Linked DNA regions of Homo sapiens. The protein of the gene in region 2 interacts with the protein of the main gene of each other region in a pairwise test. Each region holds a gene or a part of one and is shown on either strand. Other genes may lie near its edges.

Evidence for each region. The genes of interacting proteins can lie anywhere in the genome.
Region 1: the proteins of ZNF521 (region 2) and LYST interact in a two-hybrid assay, tested with the Homo sapiens proteins (one study listed by BioGRID).

What each region holds. Positions count from the first base shown.
Region 1 is NC_000001.11:235,863,887-235,870,809, forward strand, and holds the start of LYST (lysosomal-trafficking regulator), read right to left. Parts: upstream 3,021-6,923; 5' UTR 2,957-3,020; exon of another isoform or gene 1,170-2,956; intron 1-1,169. UniProt on the Homo sapiens protein: Adapter protein that regulates and/or fission of intracellular vesicles such as lysosomes. Might regulate trafficking of effectors involved in exocytosis.
Region 2 is NC_000018.10:25,349,147-25,356,963, forward strand, and holds the start of ZNF521 (zinc finger protein 521), read right to left. Parts: upstream 3,021-7,817; 5' UTR 2,859-3,020; intron 1,802-2,858; 5' UTR 1,801-1,801; coding exon 1,761-1,800; intron 1-1,760. UniProt on the Homo sapiens protein: Transcription factor that can both act as an activator or a repressor depending on the context. Involved in BMP signaling and in the regulation of the immature compartment of the hematopoietic system.

The DNA of each region.
Region 1 (6,923 bases), on a different chromosome or scaffold from region 2:
GTGCACTTCCTTGTAAAATCCAGTATTAGCAAAGAACCCTGCTAAGTCTGTTTAGCATAACATCCTGGATATCTAATCATCCTAAATATCTGATCAGGTTCCTCATCCTCCACCATTCCCCAGGTAATGTCTGATCGCCCTGGCCTGTCTTCAGCAAGAATCCCGTTAGGTCGGCTTAGCCAGAATCCCCCTTATCCCTGATGTTTCCTTTTAGCAATTTTCCATCCACGATCCCCACACTGCTGCTTGGCTATAAATTCCCATTTTCTCATGCTGTATTCGGAGTTGAGCCCAGTCTCCCTCCCCTACTGCAGGGCCCCACTGCAGAGGTCTCTATACCTATTGAGATGGTTCTGAATAAAGCCTTACTTACCATTCTTAAACAAGTATCATTGAATATTTTTTTCTTTAAAAACGTGAATGTCTAATTTTATTGTCTTCTAACCAACTCCCACCCTTCTCCCCACCAAACCTACTCCTCTCGTAAACCTAATCTCAGTAAACAAGTACCCCATCTTTCTACTTGTTCGGAACTAAATTTTGGTGTCTTTTACATCTCTACCCTCAATTTATCCTGAAATCAATGACCTCTCACCACCTCCACCAATTCCACTCTGGTCCAAGCTACATTATCTCTGGCCTGGATTAGGGCAACAGTTCCGGATTGGTATCCCAGCTTCTGCTCCTGCTCAACCCTTCCCCTACAACAAAGTCTATTCTCCATCCAGCGCCCAGAATGATCATTTTTAAAAGGCAAGCCTGGGGCCGAGCGCAGTGGCTCACGCCTACAATCGCAGAATGTTGACACGCCAAGGTGGATGGATCGCTTGAGCCCAGGAGTTTGAGACCAGCCTGGGCAACAATGGCGAAACCCCATCTTTACAAAAAATTAGCCAAGCATGGTGGGTGATGTGTGCCTGAAGTCCCAATTACTTCAGAGGCTGAGGTGAGAGGATCACCTGAGCCTGGGAAGTCGAGGCTGCAGTAGGTTGTGATCATGCCACTGCACTCCAGCCTGGGAGACAAAGTGAGATCCTGACTCAAAACTAAAAATAAAAGGTAAGGTTCTTTACTCAAAGAGTGGACTCCCCTTTCCACTGAGAGTAGAAACTCAAGTCCTTAAAAGGGCCTACAAGGCCTTATACAGTCTAATCTCCCACCACACTCACCTCTTTGACTTTATTTCTACTCCTCTTTGCTTTTTCCACCACAGCCAAATCAGCCTCTCTGCTGTCCTCAAACAAGCCCAGCACACAGGGCTTCTGCAAGCCCTTCTGCCTTCCTCTCTGCTAGCACATCCTTCCCTCAGAGAGGTACATGGATTACCCCTCACTTACTTCTGGTCTTGGCTCAAATGATATCTTTTCTAGGAAGCTTTCCCTGGCTGCCTCTAGTTAAAATTGCAAACCTCTCCCGGTTCCCTGCCCTCCCTCTTCCCTGCCCTCCCTCTTCCGTGCTTTTTCTCTGTAGTACTTAACACCATCTGACACAGCACATATTTTATTTGTTTATTATCTGAGGTCCCCACTAGAATATAAGCTCCATGAAGGAGCAGATATTTATGTTTTCTTAGAAAAGTATCTGACACGCAGTAGGTGCTCAATAAATATTTACTAAATACATATATATAATTATATAGTTTGTGAAGTATTTTTATGCAAATTACAGCAATTCATTTTTCCTTATGCCCTCTCTTCTTCAAATTCTCCAATCTTTGTAGTAACAATATGGATGACAGCAAAGAGCTATCAGAAAAAGAGTTGTTGGCCACTTAACAAAGCTCTTTAAAACAGATACCCCATATTAATCAACTACATCTATAAATTGAAAGCTTAAAGTCAACATCTTTATTAGCATAGATGAATCTAGGCGTGGAATTTTAAAATAATAGCGCAGAAGAGCCAAGAATCATCAGGAAGAAAAGTCTAATTCAGTTTGTCCTATCAATCTGTTAAACAAACAATAGGAAAATGCAACCTGCATTTGATCTTCAAGGAAACACTGGCCCAAATTCAACACGAACGCATTCAACACAAGATTCGACTCCCTTAAAATTTTCTATCTGCTTAAAACAAACCCCATTAACTATCAAGTGCCGTCGCTGGGTGTGTATGGTCTGCCGAGCGGATCGGGGATGTTTTGCTATGTTTTGTTTAACCAGATAAGAATTAGCGTTAAGGAAACGTTTCTTAAAGCCTCTGTATCCCCTGGACCATTAAACAACCCCTTCGTTGGGCTTTACACTGTGGTACCGGGGTCTTCTCGGGTAATTTCCCAGCTTATTTAACTCATCAGAAGCGAAGGGGCATCTCAGTCAGGCTCCAGTGATACCGGAGACAGACGGCAGATGTCTCAGGGGATCCCCTGGAAAGAGAGGCTCTCGCCCAGTCAAAGGGTGTCACGGACAGGAGGAAAGAGCGGACCGAGGCGCACGGTGTAGGTGACAGGTGGGCGAGCGCCGCAGGGCAACAGCGCGGGGAGTGACCGGCTGGGTGGTGGCGCGGAAACCGTCAACTCCCATCGTCAACCTGACAGCTTGGGCCCAGCTGGGCTGAGTAGTGCAGCGGCACAGGATCAAAAAATAAAATAAAGGTAGCAACACACCGCCGTCAGCCTGCTCGACCTCGCCCCCCGCGCGCTGCGAAATAAAGTTAGTGCCCAGTGGCCGCTGCAATGGCCCAGAGGGGCCCAGCCGAGCTCCCGCCCGCGGCCCGGCGGCTGTCAAAGGCGGCCCGGCGCCGCGAGAAGTCCCAGAGCCCAGAAGCCAGAGAGGACGCCCCGAGCTGGCGCGTCAGGCCGAGTGCCCTCGCGCCCTCGCGCCCTCAGCCCGGCGGTCCCGGCCCTCAACCCAGGCTGACAGCCACCAGCCCCAAACCGCCTCCCCTCCAGGCCACGCAGAGGGGCCGGGACCCGGAACCTTCTGCCGGCAGCGTCGGCGCCCGGCGGCCGCCTTTACCTGGTTTGTGGCAGCTGCGGCCGCCGCGCACTCCCCCTCTCCCGGAGAACCCCGAGCCGACGCCGCTGCCGCCGCCGCCGCGCACTCCCCACCCCCGCCCGCCCAGGTAACCCAGGAAACCGAGAACACCACCCCCTCCCTCCCCTCGTCCGGACCCAGACCCGCTCGTCTGCGCGTGCGCCCTTGGCTCCGCCTCGCGCGTGTAAGCCCCGCCTCCTCTGGGAGGGCAGCGCCGGCGTCGCAGGCGTGACGCGTGGAACTGCCGAGCCAATAGGGAAGGCAGGGGGGCGGGCCGACCCGCGGGGCTGCAGCCGGGGCCCGGTCTGGGTTTCTCAGCGGTCGGGGGTCGTACCCTGGGTCCGCACCTCCTCCCAGGGCTCTGCGTAGTGGGCTGCGTCAGACCCTGGGGAGTGCGAGCACCGTTTGAGAAGCACCAAACACAAGCGCATCGTCCGCCTCTTCCATTCAACACAGACTGTCAACCTGTCCCATTGTGTAGGTCTAGAGGATGAAGATAGAAGAAATAACGGGAAGGAGTCAGGAGAGGGAGAAAGGGTTACCCACAAGGCACCCCTAGCCTTCCTCTGGGACCTGGAAAAAGCCATATTGTAATGGTTACCGTCGGCTTCTTTCAAGAAACAAAAAGAGCTTTGCAAAGCCACTGCAGAAGTAATTCAGTGCAGTGGTGTATTTTCCAACCGACTCCTGTTCAAACACGGTTTGTATACAGTGCGCACTGTCAGTGTCATATGCCCTAATAGACCAGTCCCTCCAGAGGGTGGGAGCTGTAGGTAAAATCCAGGATGTTTTGGCTGCATCCCCGGCTCTGGGCCCAGCACGCTGCTGGCAGACTGCTGCGGTAGGCAGTTTGGCATTTCAAGGGCCACCCTCCTCACCTCCTAGTCACTGAGACAGCAACGCCAGAGGTACTGGGAAAAAGCCTGAACTGTAATCGTTCGGTAGTTTTCAAGTTCTGCCAAACAATACAAACTATTAATAAGCAGATAATCTACAAATTGACAGGAATTGCTGTAGAATCAACAACTCCCATAATTTTTTGCACAGGAATTATGAAATAGAAATAATTCAGGATATTATGTCCCAAGCCTATATACCAAATGTTACTCCCAATTCCTCAAACTCCCATCTAACCCAATGACAAGCAAAGTGCGTTAAGTTGCCCACTGATGTGGTTTAGAGGGTGCTCTTGGGGAAAATTCCCCACTTTAAAATATGTCTTCTCTGACGTCTGATGTTTAACCATTAGCAGTTCATATCTTTAGGCGAAGATTGCCCACTTCCTCTGGCAGGTAGTCTTTTATTTTTATTTTTTATCTTTTTTTTTTTGAGACAGATTCTCGCTCTGTCGCCCAGGCTGGAGGGCAGTGGCCGGATATCGGCTCACTGAACCCTAACAAGTGCAGGAAATAAATGTCTCAGGGAACTTATCACTCATTTAAGCAGTATATAATGAGCACCTACAATGCGCTAAGTATTGTGCTAGGTGCATGGGCCTGAACTGAAACAAAAAGAGGAAGCCAAACTTAACCTGTTTCGTCATTTTACCTAAAGCTGTGTCTACTCTTATTTATACATCAACTTTCACCCACTAATCTTAAAAACACCCCCCTTTTTTAATGGACAAAAGAAGTCAAAGAAATATTAAGTAACAAGCCAGTTTCTGTTAACCTTGAGTAGAAAATAATAGATTATCATGATTTCATTAAAGCAAAGAAAATGAGACAGACTTTAGATGATAATGGTATACAATTGGCCCTCAAAGTATTATTTGTTTGTAAAAGGCACAAAGTAATGCCATTTGTGACTATTATTTTTTTCGGTACCAGTGTTTTTTATTTTATTTTATTTTCAAGATGCAGCTTCACTCTTTTTCCCTGACTGGAGTGCAGTGGCACAGTCTCGGCTCACTGCAACCTCCGCCTCCCGGGTTCAAGTGATTCTCCTGCCTCAGCCTCCCAAGTAGCTGGGATTACAGGAATGTGCTACCATGCCCGGCTAATTTTGTATTTTTAGTAGAGACAGAGTTTCATCATGTTGGTCAGGCTGGTCTCGAACTCCTGACCTCAGGTGATCCACCCACCTCTACCTCCCAAAGTGCTGGGATTACAGGCATGAGACACCGCTCCTGGCCTCGGTTCCAGTATTTTAACTAAGCTACTGCAGTATGTATTTTATTCAATAGTATCTTAGAACATCGATACTAAATATACATATCAAATAAAACTTAGTTTAAAAGATTTCCTAGGAACACACACAAAATGTGTAGTGAAGAACATGAAAAAGAAGAAAAAAGTAAAGTAATAGGTATATAGAAGAAAGCTCTACTTGGCCGGGCGCAGTGGCTCACGCCTGTAATCCCAGCACTTTGGGAGGCCGAGGCGGGCAGATCACGAGGTCAGGAGATGGAGACCATCCTGGCTAACACGGTGAAACCCCGTCTCTACTAAAAATACAAAAAATTAGCCGGGCGCGGTGGCGGACGCCTGTAGTCTCAGCTAATCGAGAGGCTGAGGCAGGAGAATAGCGTGAACCCGGGAGGCGGAGCTTGCAGTGAGCTGAGATAGCGCCACTACAGTCTGGCCCGGGTGAAAGAGCGAGACTCCGTCTCAAAAAAAAAAATAATAATTAAAAAAGCTCTACTTACGCATGTATCACATGCTGGAAAACTTTTTAAGCAGGAAAGTCTTCAGCTAATTTGACTCCAGAATTATAATCTTCAATGAGATTGTAACATCCCAGCTTAAAACAACACAGTCAACGTAAATGTGCATAATTTCACATTTAATTATTCTCCAAAACACCTTTAAAAATTATTTGTGACTAAATGGATATATAAATCAAATCATGTCACATCTCTGCTCAAAAATCTGCATTGGCTCTCCGCTTCTCTCAGATAAAAGCCAAAGTCCTTACAATTGGCCTACAGAGCTCTAACACCATCTGGCTCCTCAAAACTTCGTCTCTTTCTACTCTCCCATCACTACCTACATACCTGCTTCTTTACTGTTTACCAAACATGCCAGATACAGTCCTGCTTTAAGGGCTTTGCACTGACTGGCCGGCCCCTCTGCTTGAAATTTGTTTTCTCCACATGGCTGCAGTTGTTAACTCCTTTATCTCCTCCACGTCTTTGCTCAAATTTCACCTCTCAATGAGGTCTACCCTTAATACTGCCCTTAAACTAGGCAAGAGGGGCCTCTGCCCTGGACCCCACACATGAATGGACCTCATCTCACAAATGTTCCCTAAAACAATAGTATTAAAAAACATGTATGTTCTCTGTCCCTTCTTGGGGGGTGTGGGGAGGTGGGTGGCATTGGTGAGAGTTGACACAGTTGTTAAATCAAGTTTAGCCTAAAGCTGCCTCCTTGCATATTTTAAGTTCAGCCTAAAGGTTTTTCTGTACATCATGAGCTATAACAAATGAAGGTGTAAACAGGCCATAGCCCACACCTGTGTCAATCCCTGAGTTTTGGCCAATCAAATGTAGCCAACTGTTTGAACTGTGTTCTAATAAAGCAAACGCTGAGCTGCAACCAACCCAGTTGTTTCTGTACCTCACTTCCATTTTCTGTATGTCACTTTCCTTTTGCTGTCCATAAATCTCCCACCGTGTGGCTGCGCGGGAGTCTCTGAGCCTACCTTGGCTCAGAAGGCTGCCTGATTCACGAATTGTTTTGTGCTCAATTAAACTTTAAATTTAATTTGGCTGAAGTGTTTCTTTTATCACAGTGTAACCTGTAACTCTAAACATCATCTCTTTCATAGCACCCATCAGCTTCTAACATACTACATAATTTGTCTATTTCTTATGTTTATTTTCATTGTCACCCCTGTTTAGACTATGGGCTCCACAAGGGCCACAATCTTTGTTCTATTTCTGATGTATCCCAAGGACCAGAACAGTGCCTGGCACTTAGTAGGCACTCAGTAAATATTTGGATAA
Region 2 (7,817 bases):
CCGCTATCCTACTTCAACTCGGAAAGTTCTTCTTTCCAAGTGACTAGGAAGAGGTTTGTCCTGGTACTTCGCTCAGCGTTACTTTCAAGAAAGCCGGGGTCTCGGGCAAGTCTCGCCGGCGCGAGCCTGGTCCACCGTTACCCTGACACCCGCGCACGCCCGTGGCGTTTCTTTTTTCACTGTCGACACTTGGATCTTTCAGGCCCTGGGTCTAGGTTTCCCCCAGAAAAATGAGGGGCCCATGTGACGGAAACCACCAGACACACTGTGTGGAGACACATGCCAATGATTCACCTCGTTCCCGAACTAAAACTTCTGCGCTTTAGGAAAAAAGCAAGCGTTCCAATCTGCGAGGCCCTCCCCCACCCCGTCCCTTCCCAGGAGAAGAAAGAAAGGGCTTTGTGTGTGCGGTGAGGGCTCCGTTCATCGAGTTCAAAAATGCACAGCGGCCGGGGGCCGGGAGGCGTGGGGCGCCGGGCCCTGCCCACCCCTTTTCCCCGGGCCGGCGGCGAGTCGGGAAGCTGGTGCGGGAACCGGGGCCACGGGGCGCCGCGGCCCGGCAGCCAGGAGGAAGAGGATGCTGCGCCGCCGGGGACCAGAGGGCGGGGCCGGGCCGCGCGGACCTCGGCGGGACCCAGCGGGCCCGGGCGGGCGCACCAGCCGCCCTTTGTCCTCCGCCTCCGGGTCGCGGGGGCCGCGGCCGCCTCCAGCGCTGGCCCCCTGGCCCTCGCCCCGGTTCCCCGTCCTGCCCGCGCGCCCCTCCTCCGGCCCTCGCGCTCCGCCGCCCGCCCTCCCCGCTCTCCGCCTCGGAGCGCCGGACCTCGCGGCTCCCCTCGGCCGCCCGCCCCCGATTTCCTCGGAAGGAGGCTCGCGAAGGTGGAGGAGGCGGCCGAGGAGGAGGAGGAGGCCGCCACGTGACTCTCCTCGCCACATTCCAACACAGCCATCAGATCGATAACTTCAGGGACCCCCGCCCCCGCCGCAGCCAGCTAGTGCGCCCCCAAAATCCCGCACGCACGCCCCGCAACTTCCCTCTCCAACAGGGACGACGGAGAGCTGGACCCCACCGCGAAACGCAAAGGACTCCAGGGGCGGCGGGGAGAAGTAGGGGCGAGGGGCGGTCAACTTCTGGGAATGGCCAAGAGGGGTGCTCTGAGGCCCGAGCCGGGGTCCGGTGCCCGCGGCCGGCGGCCGGGGTCTGTTTACTCCGGCGACGTGCGGAGAGGACCCAAGCAGGACGCGGGCGGGCGGGAGGCGGCGGCCGGGACCCCGGGCCACGTTTGTCACGAGCGGGGGCTGCTCCCCACCTCCGAGATGACTTTTTTCTTCTTCCAAAGAAAAGGAAAAAAGAAGCACCGCACGGTTTTGCATATTTATTCTTTGCGAAAACACACAACAGAAACTTTTTCCTCCAGCCCAGATGTAGATCTCAGACGGGATATTTTTTTTTCCTCCCTCTCCGGATAATTTCGTTTCTTTCTCTCTCTCTCTCTTTTTTTTTTTCGGTTGTTGTTGTCTTTTCTCGCCCACTTTCTACCGCCGCCCCATTCGGGGATCCTCCTCCCGTCTTCGTCTCCCCCCACCCCGACACCTCACCCTCACTCCACCTAGGGGCTCAGCGGGGAGGGGAGCGCGCGCGCCCCCGCACTCACACTCACACTCACGCGCGCACACGCCTCGCAGCCACGCAGCCCTCGCTCCGCTACCCACAGTGACACTCGCGGATGGGGGAAAGCGGGGAGCAGGGGGTTCCTCCTTACCTTTGAGGGATCTCGGTTTCGCTTGCTTGCGGCGAGACATCCTAAAAGCAAACAGCTGAAGTTGTTTCAATTCAGCCCTGAAAGAAACTATACTTCCTCGTGGCCGCGCGCCCCTCGGGCCGCGGCGCCTCGCGCCCTCCGCTCGGCCTCCCTCGCGCCCTCGCTCCGCGCTCCGCTCCTCGCTCCGGCTCCGGCTCGCGCTCGCGCGCGGGGCTCGCGGCTGCCCGAGCTCCGCGCTCTGCACGACGGCGGCGGCGGCGGCGGCGGCTGCTGCACCAAACTTTCCCAGCCTTCGACCCCCACCCCCAATCTCCAAGAAAAAAAAAAAAAAAGGAAAAAGAAAAAAGGAAAGGAGGGAAAAAAAGCTAAAAAAAAAACCCCAAAGACAATGTTTGAAGAGCCGTCAGCTACACTAAAAAGAGAAAATCCGTTACTATTTCCACCTCAATCAAAATTCACATAGTTCATGCGAATAGAAAAAAACTAATAAAAAGAAAAGCGTCTGGGTGATTTTTTTTTTCTTTACCGCTTTTCCTTTTCAACAAATCCGCCCCCCCCCCCACCGGAAAAAAACAAATAACACTGATTTGTTTACAAAGCGAGTCGTGCTCTTTTGTAGTTGGGGGGACGAGGGGGGGAAATCGACCCTGCAAGGCGATGAAAAGGTCTTGGAAAGAAAAATCTCCCACCATCCGAGGCAGATGCGAACGGGCCACGAAAATAAGCAAAGGGAAAAAAATACTTTTTTTCTCCCTTCCCCCCACCCTTTTTTTCTTAACCCACACTAAAGTAATTTCTTTCAAAAAGAAAAAGCCAAAGCACCCGAGCCGACGGCCCCCAGGTGGTGTGCGGGGCTGCTTGTGTGCAGGGGGTGTGCGGGGCCCGGGCTCGGGGCGCCCCTCTCTGGGCGGGGGCGCGGCGCCGGCGGCTGGCGCTGGACCGGGGCTCTAAAGTCTACGGCTGCCTCGGCAGCGGCGGCGGCAGCAGCGGCGGCAGCGGCGGCGGCAGCGGCGGCGAGAGCAGGAGGAGGAGGAGGAGGAGAGCCGGGAGCAGGAGGAGGAGAAGGAGTGTGCTGTGTGCTCCCTCCTCATCACAAACCTGCAAGGTCTTGGACTGCGCTGTCGCTCCGGTAGTCCACATAATAATGGAAAATGGAAGCAAGGCCCCCAAAGCCATCAGGATGGCTCCAGAGGGGGCCCCTAACCCGCAGGGACTCGCTCTGTACGTAATCACTGAGGAAATCATTGTCAGCCTGCCTGCACTCACACACAGACAGAGGGGCATGATTAAAAGGCGAGAGCGCGGGGAGCGGGAGGGAGGAGGGGGCCCGCCAAGACCCGGACTGGAGGCGCCGGCCGCGGCGCGCGGATCCGGAGCCAGGCGGCGGCCGAGCGCCCCGAGCCCCGCCCGCCGCCGCCGCCGCCGCCGCCGCCTCCCACGCGCCGCGCGCCCCGCCCGCTCCTGCGCCGCCGCCCCTCGCGCCGCCCGCCCGGCCGCTCGCACACCCCGCGCCGCCGCCGTCGCCGCCGCCGCAGCTGCGTTATTAGAGCTCCACGGCGGATCTCGGGGCTCTTCTGCTCGCTTTTTTTCCTCTTCAGAAATTAAAGCAGAGGAGCATCTGAAAGTGGAAAGGTCCCCCTTCTGGTAGGATGGATGTAAAAGGAGGCAACAATTTGTTCTTGAGGGGGCAAAAAAAAAAAAAAAAAAAAAGAAAAAGAAAAAGAAAAAGAAAGGAGGGGGGAAATTCATTGCTTGGCTTTTGCATTGTCGGACTTTAAAAAAGTGTGTCTGCTGTTGTTGCCCGGACTCGGGAAATCTTTTTTATGGCAACCGCAGACCTGCCAAGTCTCTCTTACTTGGAATCTTTATAAAGGCAAGTTATTTGGACTTTTTTTTTATTTTCTCGTTTAGAGAAAGTCATTGATGCTGACGAATGTCATAATGTGATTCAAAAGAGACAGCTTTGAGTTCACTTTTTTAACATTCTCAAATTGACATAGATCTTTGTCCAGAAAATAAAGCTTTCTGTTGATTTTTTCTTTAAGCAAGAGGTAAGGAAATATGCACTTAAGAATATGTGTACAAGAAAATAGTTTCTAAAATAAATTGAAATGTCTGCAGGTCGGTGGGAATTTTTGTTTCTTTTCGCAGTTTTGTTTTCTAACTTTTCACCTGCTCCCATCGCAAAACAAGAAACCATCACCTGTTTCCTTCTTTTACCTTATCTTAAGGGAAAGGATGTTTTAGTATTATTATTGTTGTTGCTATTTATTGATTGGACACGCTTGTCAAGTTATAAATGCCTGAGAGGGCTACCAAGTAGAGCTTAGATTCACAAGTCTTGGTGGAAATTAAGAGATTCAGAATACGGTTAATTACACAAAACAGGCAGAATTTTGTACAAATACTATTGTTCTTAATCAGATTTTAAAAATTCTCCGTTCTGTAAAATTAAGGTACAGCTATCTATTAAGCCACCATGCAAAGACATCAAAGCTTTAAGGAAGTTGTATTTTTTCCAGTCTAACCTGTAAACTGCCTGGACCCTCATGTGGATAGCTGCAAATACAGTATGTTTTTTTTCAATATCTTCATTATAATTAAATGAGTTTTCAATCCATCTGCAGTAATTCCTAAAGTGAAATCATAGTTGTAGTCAAATTTAACTTTGCATGACTGTGAAATAAAGCAACTTTTGTTGCAGAATCTGTGTTGGTACATTAAGGATTCTAGATTTTATACATAACCTTATACATTCATTTTCACAGAAATCATTCAGAAAGGGAAAAATGTGTAAACACCAAGTTTTTACAAGACTTTCCTTTCGTGTGGTAGCCATATGTGTGCAGAATACTATGGTGCCATGTATGTGTGGTCCCAAGTTATGTGTGATATTATCTAAAATATTGATGGCATCTAATCCTGGTTTTATTGGAAAGTGAAAAATTGCTAACGTAATACTAACGCGTACCCTAATTTGTTAAAGTTTTCTATATGGGTTGATTTTTTTTGTTTCTTTCTCAAAGTAGTCTACTTTGCTTTACTCTAAAATTGTTCTTTCATTTCCCAATGTTAGTATTTCTGTTGCCTTCCTCTATTAAGAGATAAATAAAACCCTTAGCTCAGAGATTTAGATCTGGCTCAAGAGCCTGATATTTCAGTTTGGGATAGTACTGCATAGCATTTTAAGGGAGGTTAAAGCACCAACCACCCAAAAGACAAACATAAAAACTATTTTAACCTAAATCTGTCAAATATTGACCTATACAGATAGGTAAAATGCTTTTGAAACGTATCTTTAAATACTTTAATTTCCTCCCCCCAAGTTACCAAGGGGGGGAAGATCATTGATTATGTTTCTAAACATAAACCCCAACATCCACCCATGAAGCCAAAGCCATCATCTCTGAGCAGAATGCAGCAACTTTGTGAATATTTGGATGCTGTTGTTGATGATGGGGTAATAATGCATAAAGAACCATGTGCAAGGAATTTTACTAAAGACAAGACAAATATTTTCTTAGGTCTCATTAAGGGGTCTTGAAGTCCAAGATAAAACATCACCCATTCTACCTTTTGGAGGGACAGATCTGGTAGGCAAAACTCCCACTGATTTCAGCATCCCTTACCACCGTATTCCATGTGAATTAATCAATTATGTGGAATTGGTGAGCACTTGGATTTCATTAAACACTGCTGAGTAGCCTCGCAATTACTTTCCATGCTTCGTATATAAACAGACACCAAAAATGTAAACTGTCCAATTCACCTGATAGAGGCTACACAGATGCTAAAGAAGGAAAACTAAGATTTGTCTTTCTTTGGACGATGCGAAAAAGCATAATTAGCCACTGCAGAAAGGTAAACATGCCTAACTGATAAACATTTTTTCATGCTTAACAAAATTCATTTTGGGAATAGTAAACTACTATATATTCAGTTATTTATCCCCCAACTTTTAAATGTATTATTCTCATTCTTAAAACTGGAAACCAGCTACAATGAGAACGTCATTCATTTTCATTCAACAGTTTTTTGAACATCATCATCCAACAAATTGTGCTGTCCTCCAAATAACCTATTTAACATCTCCTGAATAACCAGCAAAAACATATAAAGCTTATAAATTTTAGGTATTATTTACAAATAACCTGAATAGTAGTATAAAGTTTAAAATGAGACAGACCCTTCATTACCGAGTTCTATTAAGAACTTAAGTAGCTACATAATTAAACTTTCCATTTCGTATTAACATATGATTGATTTAACTTCTGGCTCTTTTCATGCATTGACTCCACAGCACCTACTTTTAAGATATTTTGCACTTTTCAGAATGTCTTGCATTGGTGAAACAAACAATATCTGGAACTGAGACTCTTACTTGAAAAAAAGATTAACGTTTTTTCAACTGTTAATTCCAACAATAAAGATATTGCTAAAGGAGGGATTAATGTTAAAGGAAACCTGTGTCCATGAAACTTGACCTCAAAGGAATTAATTACAGAAAACACATTAGGTACCAGTTCAAGTAAATCTCCAATTTTAAAATGTCAGTTGCAAAGCATAAATTGTCTTTGATAAGTTATAAGTAATAGTGTCAAAGTTGCAATCTGGCATCTAAACCAATTACAAAGAGAATACTCTGCTCATAATTTTATATAAATATCCTTAGCACATGTCTACTTATCTGTACAACAATTTCATGTAATATTTTAAGATTTTCAAGACCGATTTCGGATTTTTTTTAATATTGAAAGTTAGTTCAAATCTAGTGTATTACCTGCCTGAGTAATATGACTGTATCAGTCATATTACTCCACAGAAGCTTTCTTTTAAAGGAGGAGCATTTTTAACAAGAGTTAAATTAAAAGTCCTATGAAAGGGCAGTTTAATCAAAGTCCATCTGAATCTAATGTGTGTGTCTGTGTCTGTGTGTTTAAAATATAAAATATATGTGTGTGTTATATATGTATATACATCCACGTATATACATATTAACACATTATTGTTAGAACAACATATAAGGGACTTTTAAATTAACATTTGTGCAAAGTATTAGTGATGCATTTGGAAAGGCAATATTTTTAGTCCACAAAAACTATACTCAGTTCCCAGTTCCTTTAATTGTCCACCATCTAATTCTCAGTAAGTTACTTAATATCCATCCTGCATACTCATAACCACACTCTACCTCTTAATCTATGAAATGGGTAGCAATGTTTGAATGCAAAAGCATTTAAGAACGTCACATGGAAAAATCCACATTAAATATATAAATATGGCAAATGTATTTTGTCATTATGAATAACAAATTCTATTTTCAATCTTTTTTTAGTCTTATTTACTTGACTTCTTTTCTTTCATAAAATCTGAGTCATTAAACCCCTTTAAAAAAAATTCTGATACAGATGCGTTGAGGACTTTTCTACTTGGTGGTGGACTATATCCAAAAAGGTAAAGTTTTTTAAATGCACACTATACATTATTCATTTATTTTATAATACACGAATTCATTGAAATTTAAAGATTTAATTTCAACATGTATAGAAACGTTTAAAACTAGAGGTTTCACATTGTCATCTTTTCTTACTGAGGCTTTCATAACCACTGCAAAGGTCCTTATTGAGCCACTAAAACAATAAAAGAGAGAAAATATCCTTTCTTCACACAGAAATTGCGAAAAGAAAAGAGGGATCTTTCAGTAGAATAATATTTGCAAGCTACTTTTAAAGGTAACTGAAAGGTGAGGCATCATCTTAAGAAAAGAGATTGTAGCATATTAGAAAAACCAGATAGTACTGATTTGTGAATTCTAAAGAATTAAGGATATAGATAAGTGATCTACTAACAAAAAAAATGAACATGTACCCTTAAAAGAGACAATAAAGGAATAAAACAGTTGATAGAAATTGAATCTACCTTTTTAAGTATTGCTAATAGTATATATTTGTAGAACTTAACTGGCATATGCTAAAAATAATTACTGTCATCAGAAATACAAAATTTATAAATAATGAAATAAAGAGGAAATAGTTATATTTCCTAAAAAGGCAAATT